2 linked regions of the Homo sapiens genome follow. The protein of the gene in region 1 interacts with the protein of each later gene in a biochemical or structural test. Each region holds a gene or a part of one and is shown in the gene's direction. Other genes may lie near its edges. The genes, in order: GHRL and MLNR.

Evidence for each region.
Region 2: the proteins of GHRL (region 1) and MLNR form a complex in vitro, tested with the Homo sapiens proteins (one study listed by BioGRID).

The regions. Positions count from the first base shown.
Region 1 is NC_000003.12:10,284,910-10,289,947, reverse strand, and holds the end of GHRL (appetite-regulating hormone isoform 1 preproprotein), read left to right. Parts: intron 1-69; coding exon 70-186; intron 187-1,841; exon of another isoform or gene 1,842-2,003; intron 2,004-2,466; exon of another isoform or gene 2,467-2,660; intron 2,661-3,135; coding exon 3,136-3,244; intron 3,245-4,053; coding exon 4,054-4,073; 3' UTR 4,074-4,282; downstream 4,283-5,038.
Region 2 is NC_000013.11:49,215,515-49,223,127, forward strand, and holds MLNR (motilin receptor), read left to right. Parts: upstream 1-4,823; coding exon 4,824-5,724; intron 5,725-6,525; coding exon 6,526-6,863; downstream 6,864-7,613. UniProt on the Homo sapiens protein: Receptor for motilin.

The DNA.
Region 1 (5,038 bases):
GTCTGACCTCACTGTTTCTGGAAGGACATGGGGGCTTAGAGTCCTAAACAGACTGTTTCCCCCTTCCAGCAGAGAAAGGAGTCGAAGAAGCCACCAGCCAAGCTGCAGCCCCGAGCTCTAGCAGGCTGGCTCCGCCCGGAAGATGGAGGTCAAGCAGAAGGGGCAGAGGATGAACTGGAAGTCCGGGTCGGTACCTCTGCAGTTTTATGCTTCTGTGGCAGCGAGGAGGGTGGGGTCAGGGGAGAGGGAGGGCAGGGAGAGGTGGCAGTGAACAGGGTCCCAACTACAAGCTCCCCAGAACTATAAAACCAGTACCACAGGAGTTGAGCTCTGCCCTGGGCTCTGTGAGGTCTTTACCCATTAAGAGAAAAATATCTAGAAGAAGTAACTTTGCTACAACAGAATAGGGACGGAAGGAGCCTGGGCAGAGGAGAGAGGGTGCCAGAGCCTCCAGGCGACTCAAAGGGGACAGAAAATACAGTGCCCAGAGACAAAGACACCCAGAAATAAACGGCAGGCCCAGACTGAAGATGTTGCTCTGCAGAAAACCATGTTTTACTCAGGGGCTTCCAGGGCCTGGACTGTGGGGTGGAGTGCTTCCGAACAGCACCCTGGATGGGAGGGCTGGCGCCAGCCCAGGCTCCGGCACCCACTCACCTCGCCTGGAGGCAAGGAGGGGGCAGGTGTGGGTGATGTGCTCTGACAAATCGTGCGTGGGGCAAGGAGAAAGTTAAGACAACCCAAGGATGGAGAGGAGGAGGGAGTAAAGGATTTTACGGGGTTTTCTATGCAACCTTCCTGTGGCTGTGGTTCAGGGAATGGTTTCTTCTAAATATTTGGTTGGTGACACCATTTCGCAGCTAAGGCAGGATTCCCCCAAGGTAGCACTTAATAATGGCAGCTATTAGACGCTGTGCCCGAGGATACCAACTTCACCTCTAACTGCCCCACCTCCTCCCTACGACAACCTGTGAGGTAAGCAGGGCTGGCATTACTCCCACTTTAGAGCCAAGGAACAGTTCAGAGGTGAACTCACTTGCCCAAGGTACCACAGCGGTGTGTGGAAGGGACGCGACACAAGGTCAGGGCTGACTCCAGTCCCCAAGCCCTCTTCCTCCTCACTGGTCTGATGGACAGAGACAGCGCACAGTGGCCCAGGGGAGGCCTCTTCCTTCCAGAGGAGTGAAATGTGCCCGCCTTGGCCTCTGCCTGCCTGTTTACCATACTCTTCTCCAGTCGAGGAATAAAGCCGTCGGAAGCTCCCCCAGCCCCTGCTCGCTTTCATCCTCACCAGCACCTGGCGGTGTTCAGACCTTTCCTCTACACGGTGGGATCCACTAGATTCTCATCTGAAAGAGCTGCATACCCTTAGGCCAAAACCAGGATATTTTGCTGGTGAGACGGCTAGCTCCACACATGGTCATCCCAGCCAGAGGAGCTGCCCAGTACCCAGATGAGAAAGAGGTCTTGGTGGCTGACGACGCAAGGTGGGGCTGGTACAGCGGGAACTTTGCAGTTTCTGTGAAAGCTAGCCTTGGAGCATGTGACCCACACTGCCTTGGCTGGAACCAGAAGTCAAACGCCTGGGGGGTGTTGGGGCTGCCAGAAGAGGAGTGGCTGCAGAGACCTGGAGCGCCCCACTACCAAACCCCTCACAACCGAGTGTCCCACCCACCTCTCTCATCTCAGGCCCCTCTACCTCCCCCCAAACGTTTCCCTCCCAAAATCAAGTTTCAGAGTAGAAGACTTTGGAGACCAAGTCCCACTCCCATTGAACAGATGGGCCACTGAGGCCAGGAGGGAAGCTGCCCCCCACCAGCCAGCACTGTGTCACCACTCACTTGCCTGCACCACAGCGCCAGGTGTTAGGCCAGGCCAGCAGTTTCCCAGACCGGTGCTCCTGTTTCCTAAGATGTCTGCCAGGTGATCAGCCACCCCGCATTTGCCTCAGCGGTGGAAGAAAAACAAGTATTTACTGGAGGGAATGGAAGGCCCCAACTCTCCTTAAAAAAAAAAAAAAAAAAAAAAAAAAATTCAATCATGTCATTCCCCACTGGGTCCACCTTCATGGTGGAGTTAAGGGGAGGGAGATTTCGAAAAGGGAACGCATAGCTATTGGTTAATAGCTTCTCTGCGCCTCTGTCCTCACCTGTAAAATGGGCACAGTGGTAGCGCCTACCCCACAGGGAGGCACTGAGGACGCCTGGCCTCACACAGAGGAAGGGCAATAGGACTAAAGCAGTTTTCAGGGCCAAGTGGGTTTAAAAGTCCTGCATTCTAGTCCTTGGCCTCCAACTCCTTGGGCTTCTACTGTGAGGACCAAATGACCCAGCACTAAGATCCTTCCCTGACTCAGATAAGTCAGTGCCCAATATGGCCAGGCACCGAGGTAGCCACTGGCAGAGACAATCTCTGCTCTCAAGGAAAGTCTGCCATGTGGCTGCAGCAGAGCTCCTTCCCACTTACCCAAAGCTTTGAGCTCCAATAAATCATCTCAGGAATACCTGGAAAATGGAAGAGATGAGGCGCTCTCCCTGTAGAGGGGAAGAAATGGAAGCACAGAAAGGACTTGGCTCAGAGCCTCTTTCTAGGAAAACATCAACTTCCTTTTGATTTTCCAGGCATCAAAGAAAGGTCTATGCATATGAGAGAAAAAATACCTAGGGAAGGAGAAAAAGGAGAAGAAACAGACAAGAGAGAAAGGAGAAAGAGCTGGGAGCAGGGAAGGAATAGAAGGCCAGCAGGCCAGTGCTGAGAATGCTGGGCAGACCCCCTGCCAGGGCCTGAAATGCTGCCATTGGTGACTCAACCTTTTGTCTTCAAAACTGCAAGGGAGAAAAAAAATCTCACACTAGGGGGCACCACAGCTTTTATCAGCAATCCCATTAGAGGCTAAGGCTGAGAGGCATGAGAGTGCAAGGTAAGTGTCTGAAAGATGGTGAGTGGGAAGGTGAGCTGTGGTCCTGAGAAAGGAAGAGAACCTGGCTGAGGTGTCACTCAGCAGTCCCTGCTGGGGCCCAAAGGCCATTCTCCCTCTCCACTCCTGAAGAGAGGCAGAGAGCCCAGAGCCCCCTTTGAGATGGGGATGGGCATGACCTCTGACATCTCCTGGGTCCTCCCTGCCCTGCCTCCTAGTTCAACGCCCCCTTTGATGTTGGAATCAAGCTGTCAGGGGTTCAGTACCAGCAGCACAGCCAGGCCCTGGGGAAGTTTCTTCAGGACATCCTCTGGGAAGAGGCCAAAGGTGAGTCCTGCCTGGACTGGGTTTGCTCGGTTTCCTTGCAGCCCCACATGGGAGTTCACTCTGTGGGTGATGAGTTTTCCCCAACCTCTGCCTCTCCAAAAGAACTTCTAATTTCCCTTTCCCAAAGATCTGCAGGATAGTGGTTGGCTAGTATTTGTGAGTGGCTCAGAAGGGAGTTCATCATAGTCTTTGTGTTCAAAGAATGTTCTAAGAACTAGTACATTAACTAGCTTTGGGGCCTCAGTTGAACCTCAGCTTCCTTAACTGTAAAATGGAGCTATTTTACCTATTGTGAGAGTCTACAATTATTTGGTGTTACACCGTCTTCACTGCGTAACTTTACTCCACAAACAAAAAGGAATTGGTGCCAAAATAGCACTCAGAACAGGTTCTGCAGCCTGTTAAGCAGTTCCTTCAAATATTAGAGCTTCCTGAGTTAAGCAAAGGGTTTGCTTTGAATCCCCTCACCTTGTAAAAGAAAAAAAAGAAACCGCCCAACTGATTGAGGTGGCAGAAACACCTGCACATCTGCAAAGCACTGTCCTCACCAAGGCGGTGACCCGTCACCCCTGGGGAACAGCAGGGGTAGCATTCACCCCGCTGTGCAAACGAGGAAACCAAGACTCAGAGCTTTGAGGTGACTTGCCCAGGGCACAACAGTCCACACTTGAGTGCCGCCCTCTGACTCCAAGGCCAGTGCTTCCCCACAACCCCCACCATTACATCCCACCTCCAATCTCACCACCGTGGAAGAAAAGCACTAGCAGGACGGTGCACCCAGCATTCTTACTCAACCTCTTGCTTTCCAGAGGCCCCAGCCGACAAGTGATCGCCCACAAGCCTTACTCACCTCTCTCTAAGTTTAGAAGCGCTCATCTGGCTTTTCGCTTGCTTCTGCAGCAACTCCCACGACTGTTGTACAAGCTCAGGAGGCGAATAAATGTTCAAACTGTATGCTGATGTTCCAAATGGGAATTTATTTCAAAGAGGAAAAGTTAATATTTTACTTTAAAAAAATCAAAATAATACAAATAAAAATAATTCTTGGTTTATGGTCTGTGGGAAGGGAATAAAAGGACAAGTAGCAAGGCCAATGTGCATGTTTAGAAAACCTAATCACACCAGCTCACTCAAGCAGAGAAGCTACTGCATGTGCATGCATTGTGTGGAATTAAGACTGGGTTTCTTAGAGAAGGAGGAGAGAAAGGGGGAGAGTAGGAGGGAGAGGGGAAAAGGAGGAGGGAGAGGAAGAGAAAGAAGAGATAAAGTGGGACTAAGAGAAAGAGGGAAGAGAGGAAGAACAAAGACACAGTTCCTTTAAACATCAGGGCTTCCTGAGTGCAAGGCTGCATTAACAGCTTATTAACAACCAGCCAGGGCTGTGTGGACAAAGAAACTTCAGGATGACATTATCGAAGCCAACATCCATTCAAGATTGGAGAGGAAGACAGGAATGCCCAAGAGTGAATCTGAAGTTAGACGTTAAGTGAGGTGCCCAATCACGGCTCTTGGGCACTGCTAGACAGCACTGAAAGAGCTGCATTCTCCTTCCTCCCTTCTCCACTACTGAGAAGGCCTGACAAAGCAAATGCCTCACATGGGCAAGGCTGGCCGTCGCCATGGTTCCCTTACTGATACCAGGTGGGATCCCCAAACATTCCCTCAACTCCAGTTCACAGCAGACACGAGCCTTGACTCTTATGTTCCACAACTTAATTCCAGTTACGACACTGGTCTTCCCGGGGGAAGGCCACTCGGTCATGCCCACCTTAGCCTAAACATGTGGACTGACTT
Region 2 (7,613 bases), on another chromosome or scaffold:
GATCACTTGAGCCCAGGAGTTCAAGAGCAGCCTGGGCAATCTAGGGAGACCCCCATCTCTACAAACTTCATGCCTTGCTCTTATGTGGGGAAAAGAGTGTAAAGCCTGTGGAGTGTTTACAAGTTTACATAAGTAAACTATTGTACAAGTTACGGATGTATTTTTTTTTTTTTTTTTTTTTGAGACGGAGTCTCGCTCTGTCGCCCAGGCTGGAGTGCAGTGGCGGGATCTCGGCTCACTGCAAGCTCCGCCTCCCGGGTTCACGCCATTCTCCTGCCTCAGCCTCCCAAGTAGCTGGGACTACAGGCGCCCGCCACTACGCCTGGCTAATTTTTTGTATTTTTAGTAGAGACGGGGTTTCACCGTTTTAGCCGGGATGGTCTCGATCTCCTGACCTCGTGATCCGCCCGCCTCGGCCTCCCAAAGTGCTGGGATTACAGGCGTGAGCCACCGCGCCCGGCCGTTACGGAGGTATTTTAATGCTCCTCACAACTTTCCAGATTCTTCAATTTGCCCATAAAATCTGGTTTCTGAGAAAGACACTGGAAGACACTTTCCTAGCAGAATCCAGATCATAACCTAGCATTCTCTGCAGCTGGTGGTGCTATGGTCTGTATAGCAAGAGGCCACCCAGCACAGTAGTTATGCCCATGGACTCTGGAAGTGGACAGCACCACCCTTACTGGCTGTCCCAGTGACCTGGGGTCACTTCTCTGTGCTTTGCTCTTCTCATCTCTAACATAGAGATACTAAAAGAACCTGCTGCCTTGGACTGCTGTGGAGGATTAAATGCATTCAGATATGAAAGTACTTGGAACAGTGCCTTGCACACAGCAAGCATTAGCTTTATATTCATCCAGACCATCCCTTTATATTCATCAAAAGCCAACAAGTGAGGCCTCCAGCCCGGGGCCAAGAGCCTATTGATGACACCAACCTCTTGCCTCTGGGGACGCAGGCCGTAGCTGGGCCAAACCTAGACCCACCCTTGCCCCACATGAGTTACAGGTGGAGAGGTACTCAAAGAGTAAAGAAGAGAGACGCCCATGCTCCCGGTCTACTGAGAACTTCCTCTTCCTCTCGCTAGATTAACTATGAAGTCAGGAAGCTGGTGAATGTCTACAGAAACACAAAGTAGAAAACAGATCTGGTCCCATTCCTTCCTAAAACATTGAATGCCAACCCATCATAAGAGCTCAGATATGTCCTAAGGGCCAAGTTATGTTTGAACCTCAGCATAGCAATGTTATCAAAAAAGCCCGCTGGGTCTCCACCTCTCCATATCAGTATTCTGTCTTAAGCTGAAGTATCAGTGACTACTTACTGAGCACCCACTACAATCAGAGCACTGTTTTAACGGCTAGGAATTGTAAAGAAAACAATGGTACCTGGTTCTACAGAAGCTCATTCATTCTCCAAGTTAACAAATATTTATTAAATTCTCACTTTGTGCCAGGCACTAAGGAAACAGCAGTGAACACAGCAGATTAAAGCCCTGCCTTCTGGTGCACATAATGTTGGGAGATAGAGATAGATAATAAACAAATAGCTAGGTAAATTAAATAGTATGTCAGTTGATAATAAGCAATATGGAGAAAATACCATAGAGAGGGAGTGCCTGAATGGAGGTGAGTAATTCACAACAGCCAGGATGCTGACTGCAGACTCAGTGAGCCTGCCTCAGCGCCACCATGGTGGGTGGGGAAGGGAATAAGGGAGGCTTCAGCAGAGGCTGGGGTAGTCCATCAGGCCAAGGAGCAAATGGGAAAAACCAAAGAGACTCAGGGATTCGCAGCCCATGAGAGCCATGGGGAAGATGTCAAGTGCTCCTGATAGCATCACCTGAGTCCAAGAAAGAAGCTACCTCTTCACTAGCCACAGGCCCATGCGCCCAAGGCTAGCAGAGCCACTGGTGACCAGGCAGGAAGGGAACATGGAACTGGAGTCTAGCAAATGCCAGCCCCTGACACCCCAGGAGCCGGCGTGAAGCTTCATAAGGACCTCTCCCTCTAGCTTTAAGCCACTGACCCCTCTCCCCGTACACCTGGGCCACCTTGAGGAAAGGCATGATGTCTGAGAGAAGGGAACACTGCCCAGAGGGGCTGCTTAACTGATCCGCCTGGATCATGCCTTACCTAGGCTAGAGCATTCATTTCTCTTGTTGAGAGCACAGGGGAAAATCAAATCAACTATAAATGAAGAAATTACATTTTCTCTGCCTAGGGGGAGGAGACAGGGAGGAAGAAAAAGTGGAAACTGTGAGTACAGAAACTATTTTGAGGAGTTTTGCATGAAAATGATCCAGGAGAGAAAAACTGATGACAAGAGAGAGAGAAAGAGAATTGACGCAGTGATGTCTGGAGGAGGAGAAAGGAGCACTTAAGGGGCAGAGCTGACTTCAGCTGCAAGTACCACCAACTGTCCCAGGGGAGCACGAGCAGAGGTGGGGGTGTGGTAGTTATCTTCAGAGAAACAGGGTGCAAGGAAACCTCCCAAAGGAAGGGGTGGTGGGTGTTGGGTCTAAGGAGAGAGGAGGGGGTATAAACCAGCAGCCTGGTGGTGGGAGAGTGAATGAGGTCAGGTGAGAGTTGGGAAGGCCGGGGGAACGAAGCACCCCGCTAGAGGTTGTGCTTTCAAGTGAAACAACGCCATGTGAGAGCAGGCAAGGAGTAGGCAGGGAATTCGGCTTCACCAGGGTTGTGGTGCTCTTGGTGGATGGACGAGGCTGACAATGGAGAAAAGAGCAAGGGAGTCGAGGGCGTCTGTGTGGGAGTGATGGCGACTGCCCGTGGAATTTACGTTGGGTAAAGGAAGAAAGTGAAGACCTGGGGCAGGCAAGGGACCGGGAAAAGGAAGGAGGAGCCAGCGATGGAGGTCGCAGTGGGTTGAAGGATTACCGGAACTGAGGTGCTAGGGGAAGAGAGCTAAAAAGAGAGCGGGCGGAGGTCAGAAAGAGGGCTGACTGAAGTGGAGGTGGAGGAAGGCTGGCAGGCAACCGTGAGGTGTAAGTTCCGTCGACAGGCGCGGCTGAGATCGGGTGGAGAGCAAGGTCATAGGTGGAAAGGAGGTCAACAAACTAGAGGCCAAGGCATTCCAAGACTCGGCATGGGTGTGAACGGCCGCAGATGCAGTGCTTCAAAGAGAGCGCAGGCACCTGTCCCTCAGGGACTACGGGTGACCACGGAGGAAAGCGCTAGGGAGGGCGGTTTTAGGACCGCTGGAAACAGCAGCGATGAGGGAGGCGACAGGTGTCCCTCCTCCAAGCTCACAGTCTGCATGTGAGAGAGAACTGCAGGAGAAGCTTGCCCTAGGCAAAGCCAGGTGTCAGGTCCAGAATCGAGACTCCAGAGAAGAGGTTGAGGATTTAAGCCACTGAGGGGGTGGAGCTGGGCAGTGAGTAGGACGTCAGGCTTGCAAGCTCTGGGATTAGGCCGACCAGAGCCCATATCCCAGTCCCGCCTCTTACTGCCTGCTTGATCTCAAGCAAGACCGCTTTGTTCATGGGCGAAAGGAGCGCCCCGGGCCATGAGGATTAAATGGAGAGCACAGGGCCAGATCCATCTAAATTCTCAGTAAGTGTTAGCTATTGTTATTAAGACCACACCGAACAGACTGAACATCCGTTTTAGCCCCTTTCCCCAATTTTCGTTCTTTCCGGTGTTGACAAATCCTCTAGTTTTTTAAGTTTATAAAACATGTTGTACATAAGAATGACATATCACATGTGAAAGTACTCTAGTGTCCACGTAAATATTTGTCTTGTTCTTTATAATAAGTAAACATGCTCACGGATCCTTGAAATTATCTGGTCACTGCCGGGCGCGGTGGCTCACGCCTGTAATCCCAGCACTTTGGGAGGTCGAGGCGGGTGGACCACCTGGGGTCAGGAGTTCGAGACCAGGCTGGCCAACATGGCGAAACCCTGACTACACAAAAAACACAAAATTTAGCCGGGGCTTGGGCGCTCCTGTGCTCCCAGCTACTCAGGAGGCTGAGGTGGGAGGACTGCTTGAGCCTGGGAGGTCGAGGCTGCAGTGAGCTGTGATCGCGCCACTTAAACTCCAGCCTGGACGACAGTGAGACCCTGTCTCAAGAAGAAAAAAAGAAAGAAAGAAAGAAAAAAAGAAAAAAAAGAAATTATTTGGTCAATTATATGGTCAGCTCCCTCCACCACTCGCGAATTTACAGAAGAGGAGAACTGGGCTGGGCGAGACCAGGACTAGCCCAAGATTACACAAGTTACTCGGTTGTAGAGCCAGGATTAGACAGGAGAGGCTCTAGATTCTGGTCTAGACTCCCCTCCTATTATTTAGCATTATGGCTTCCTGAGGATTACCATGAGCCCTCCTCCACCGTCAAGCGGCAGCTACCAGCCACCAGACCAGATCCCTTCGAAGGTGCCCGGAGTACCAGACTGACAAAAGCGCCCGTACAGTGCTCAGTCCTGTAACCAAAGCTGTCTAGGGTGCAGACATCGCTCACCGGACCGGGTAGGGCTCGTGCGCTAAGGGCGCCGGGTATTCCAGTTAGTGGAGAGGGAAGCGCCCTGGAACTGCATGGGCCCGGGAGAGGGCGCGGGAGCGGAGCAGGGCCGGGCCGGGGCGGGCCGCGGCCGTGGGCGGAGACTGCGCGCAGCTAGCTCGGGAGCGCCTCGGAGCCCACCCCGCAGAGCCGCTTCTCGCGCCCCGCAGCGCAGCGCAGCGCTCCGCCGTCTGACCTGCCGCGCCCGCAGCGTGCGGGCTGGGAAAGGAGGCGCTCACCGAGAGGGACCACGCGCCAGGCTCCCAGCCCGACCCGGGACGCGGCGGCCGCGCGGAGCACCCATGGGCAGCCCCTGGAACGGCAGCGACGGCCCCGAGGGGGCGCGGGAGCCGCCGTGGCCCGCGCTGCCGCCTTGCGACGAGCGCCGCTGCTCGCCCTTTCCCCTGGGGGCGCTGGTGCCGGTGACCGCTGTGTGCCTGTGCCTGTTCGTCGTCGGGGTGAGCGGCAACGTGGTGACCGTGATGCTGATCGGGCGCTACCGGGACATGCGGACCACCACCAACTTGTACCTGGGCAGCATGGCCGTGTCCGACCTACTCATCCTGCTCGGGCTGCCGTTCGACCTGTACCGCCTCTGGCGCTCGCGGCCCTGGGTGTTCGGGCCGCTGCTCTGCCGCCTGTCCCTCTACGTGGGCGAGGGCTGCACCTACGCCACGCTGCTGCACATGACCGCGCTCAGCGTCGAGCGCTACCTGGCCATCTGCCGCCCGCTCCGCGCCCGCGTCTTGGTCACCCGGCGCCGCGTCCGCGCGCTCATCGCTGTGCTCTGGGCCGTGGCGCTGCTCTCTGCCGGTCCCTTCTTGTTCCTGGTGGGCGTCGAGCAGGACCCCGGCATCTCCGTAGTCCCGGGCCTCAATGGCACCGCGCGGATCGCCTCCTCGCCTCTCGCCTCGTCGCCGCCTCTCTGGCTCTCGCGGGCGCCACCGCCGTCCCCGCCGTCGGGGCCCGAGACCGCGGAGGCCGCGGCGCTGTTCAGCCGCGAATGCCGGCCGAGCCCCGCGCAGCTGGGCGCGCTGCGTGTCATGCTGTGGGTCACCACCGCCTACTTCTTCCTGCCCTTTCTGTGCCTCAGCATCCTCTACGGGCTCATCGGGCGGGAGCTGTGGAGCAGCCGGCGGCCGCTGCGAGGCCCGGCCGCCTCGGGGCGGGAGAGAGGCCACCGGCAGACCGTCCGCGTCCTGCGTAAGTGGAGCCGCCGTGGTTCCAAAGACGCCTGCCTGCAGTCCGCCCCGCCGGGGACCGCGCAAACGCTGGGTCCCCTTCCCCTGCTCGCCCAGCTCTGGGCGCCGCTTCCAGCTCCCTTTCCTATTTCGATTCCAGCCTCCACCCGCCGGTACTTCCCATCCCCCGAGAAAACCATGTCCTGTCCCCCAGGAGCTCTGGGGGACCCCAGGGCGCTTTGAGGGTGGGATCCCCGGATCCGATTCAGTAACCAGCAGTGCTTTTCCAGAGCCTCTGAGACCAGAAAGGAGAGTTGGTAATTCTTAATCCAACCACCTGTTAGATGCCACAGATGAGGAGTCCTCACAGTGCTCTTGAGAAGACGAGGGAGATTTCATTAAGCTAAAATTTTTTATTTAATGTTAAGTGATGCTGAAGGCTAAAGTAAACCTTGCTCGTATCAAAAAGTAAAGATTGTGCAGACCTGTTGTAGAATTCTTTTCAACAGAGAACAGAAAACTTGTCTCCGAAGTGGGTTTGTGGAAGGAAGCCTGCCAAGGCGGCTTGTTCAGAGAAATTGCTCCTTCTGGTTTATGTCCAGCCTTGATAACACATATGGGAGCCTACTATGCAGTTTTAAAGCAAGTATCCATGCAGCCTGCAGCCTGGTCATTTTTTCTGGGGTGAGGATCTGCCTAGGTAGAAGTTTTCTCTAATTTATTTTGCTGTTACTTGTTATTGCAGATGGTTCCTTGTCGGGGTGGGGGGTTTATTTGCTTCCCAATGCTTTTGTTAATCCCGGTGCTGTGTCTTATGTTGCAGTGGTGGTGGTTCTGGCATTTATAATTTGCTGGTTGCCCTTCCACGTTGGCAGAATCATTTACATAAACACGGAAGATTCGCGGATGATGTACTTCTCTCAGTACTTTAACATCGTCGCTCTGCAACTTTTCTATCTGAGCGCATCTATCAACCCAATCCTCTACAACCTCATTTCAAAGAAGTACAGAGCGGCGGCCTTTAAACTGCTGCTCGCAAGGAAGTCCAGGCCGAGAGGCTTCCACAGAAGCAGGGACACTGCGGGGGAAGTTGCAGGGGACACTGGAGGAGACACGGTGGGCTACACCGAGACAAGCGCTAACGTGAAGACGATGGGATAACCAGCACGGCCAAGCCAGGCTCCTCTTGCAGTTCTAAGACTTTGGGGAAAACAGGTGTGTAGAGAAATAAAGACTGCAAATGAGGAACAGATCCTGTTAAGAAGAATGGAAAGAGGGTTGCAGTTGTGCCAGTTGGTTAAGAAATAGACCGCATGATTTATTTAACCAAGGTATGAAATGTAACTGCGCCAACCTTTCTAGTTTCCTTCCCACGTACCTCCTAAGGAAGGTCGATTTTACCATCATGAAATCCCACATCTCAAAGTGTGCTCTTGTGTGATGGTTTCATGAAGTCCTCATTCTCCTACTCTTCGGAAAGATGATTGTTCATTTTACAGTTAAATGATACACAAAGATGCTGCCCCAAAACTGCCACCTCTGAGATCATGAGTGTATTTTATGTTTTGGATGTAAATGTAACAGTACATCTACAAGGAACCAGGATAATGATAGTTTTGATCCAAGAAATGATTTAATACCTATGTATGGCTGCAAAAACTTTTAGAAGTAAAAGGAATTCTGGGTAGACTCCAGTGTTCAGGGGTCCCACCTCTCTCCAGATCACAGCAAATCATAAAGTTTAGGCAAAATAATAGCCTCTTTCAGAAGTATTAAGCAATTGTGTTGCAACCCACTTCTCCTTGACACTGCCCATGGGACCTTCCCAGTGCCACTGGCCATGGGGTGGCAAACTTTGGGCATCAACATTTGAGAGTAGAGAGCTCAGCAGGACATGGCTTTCTCCAGTGA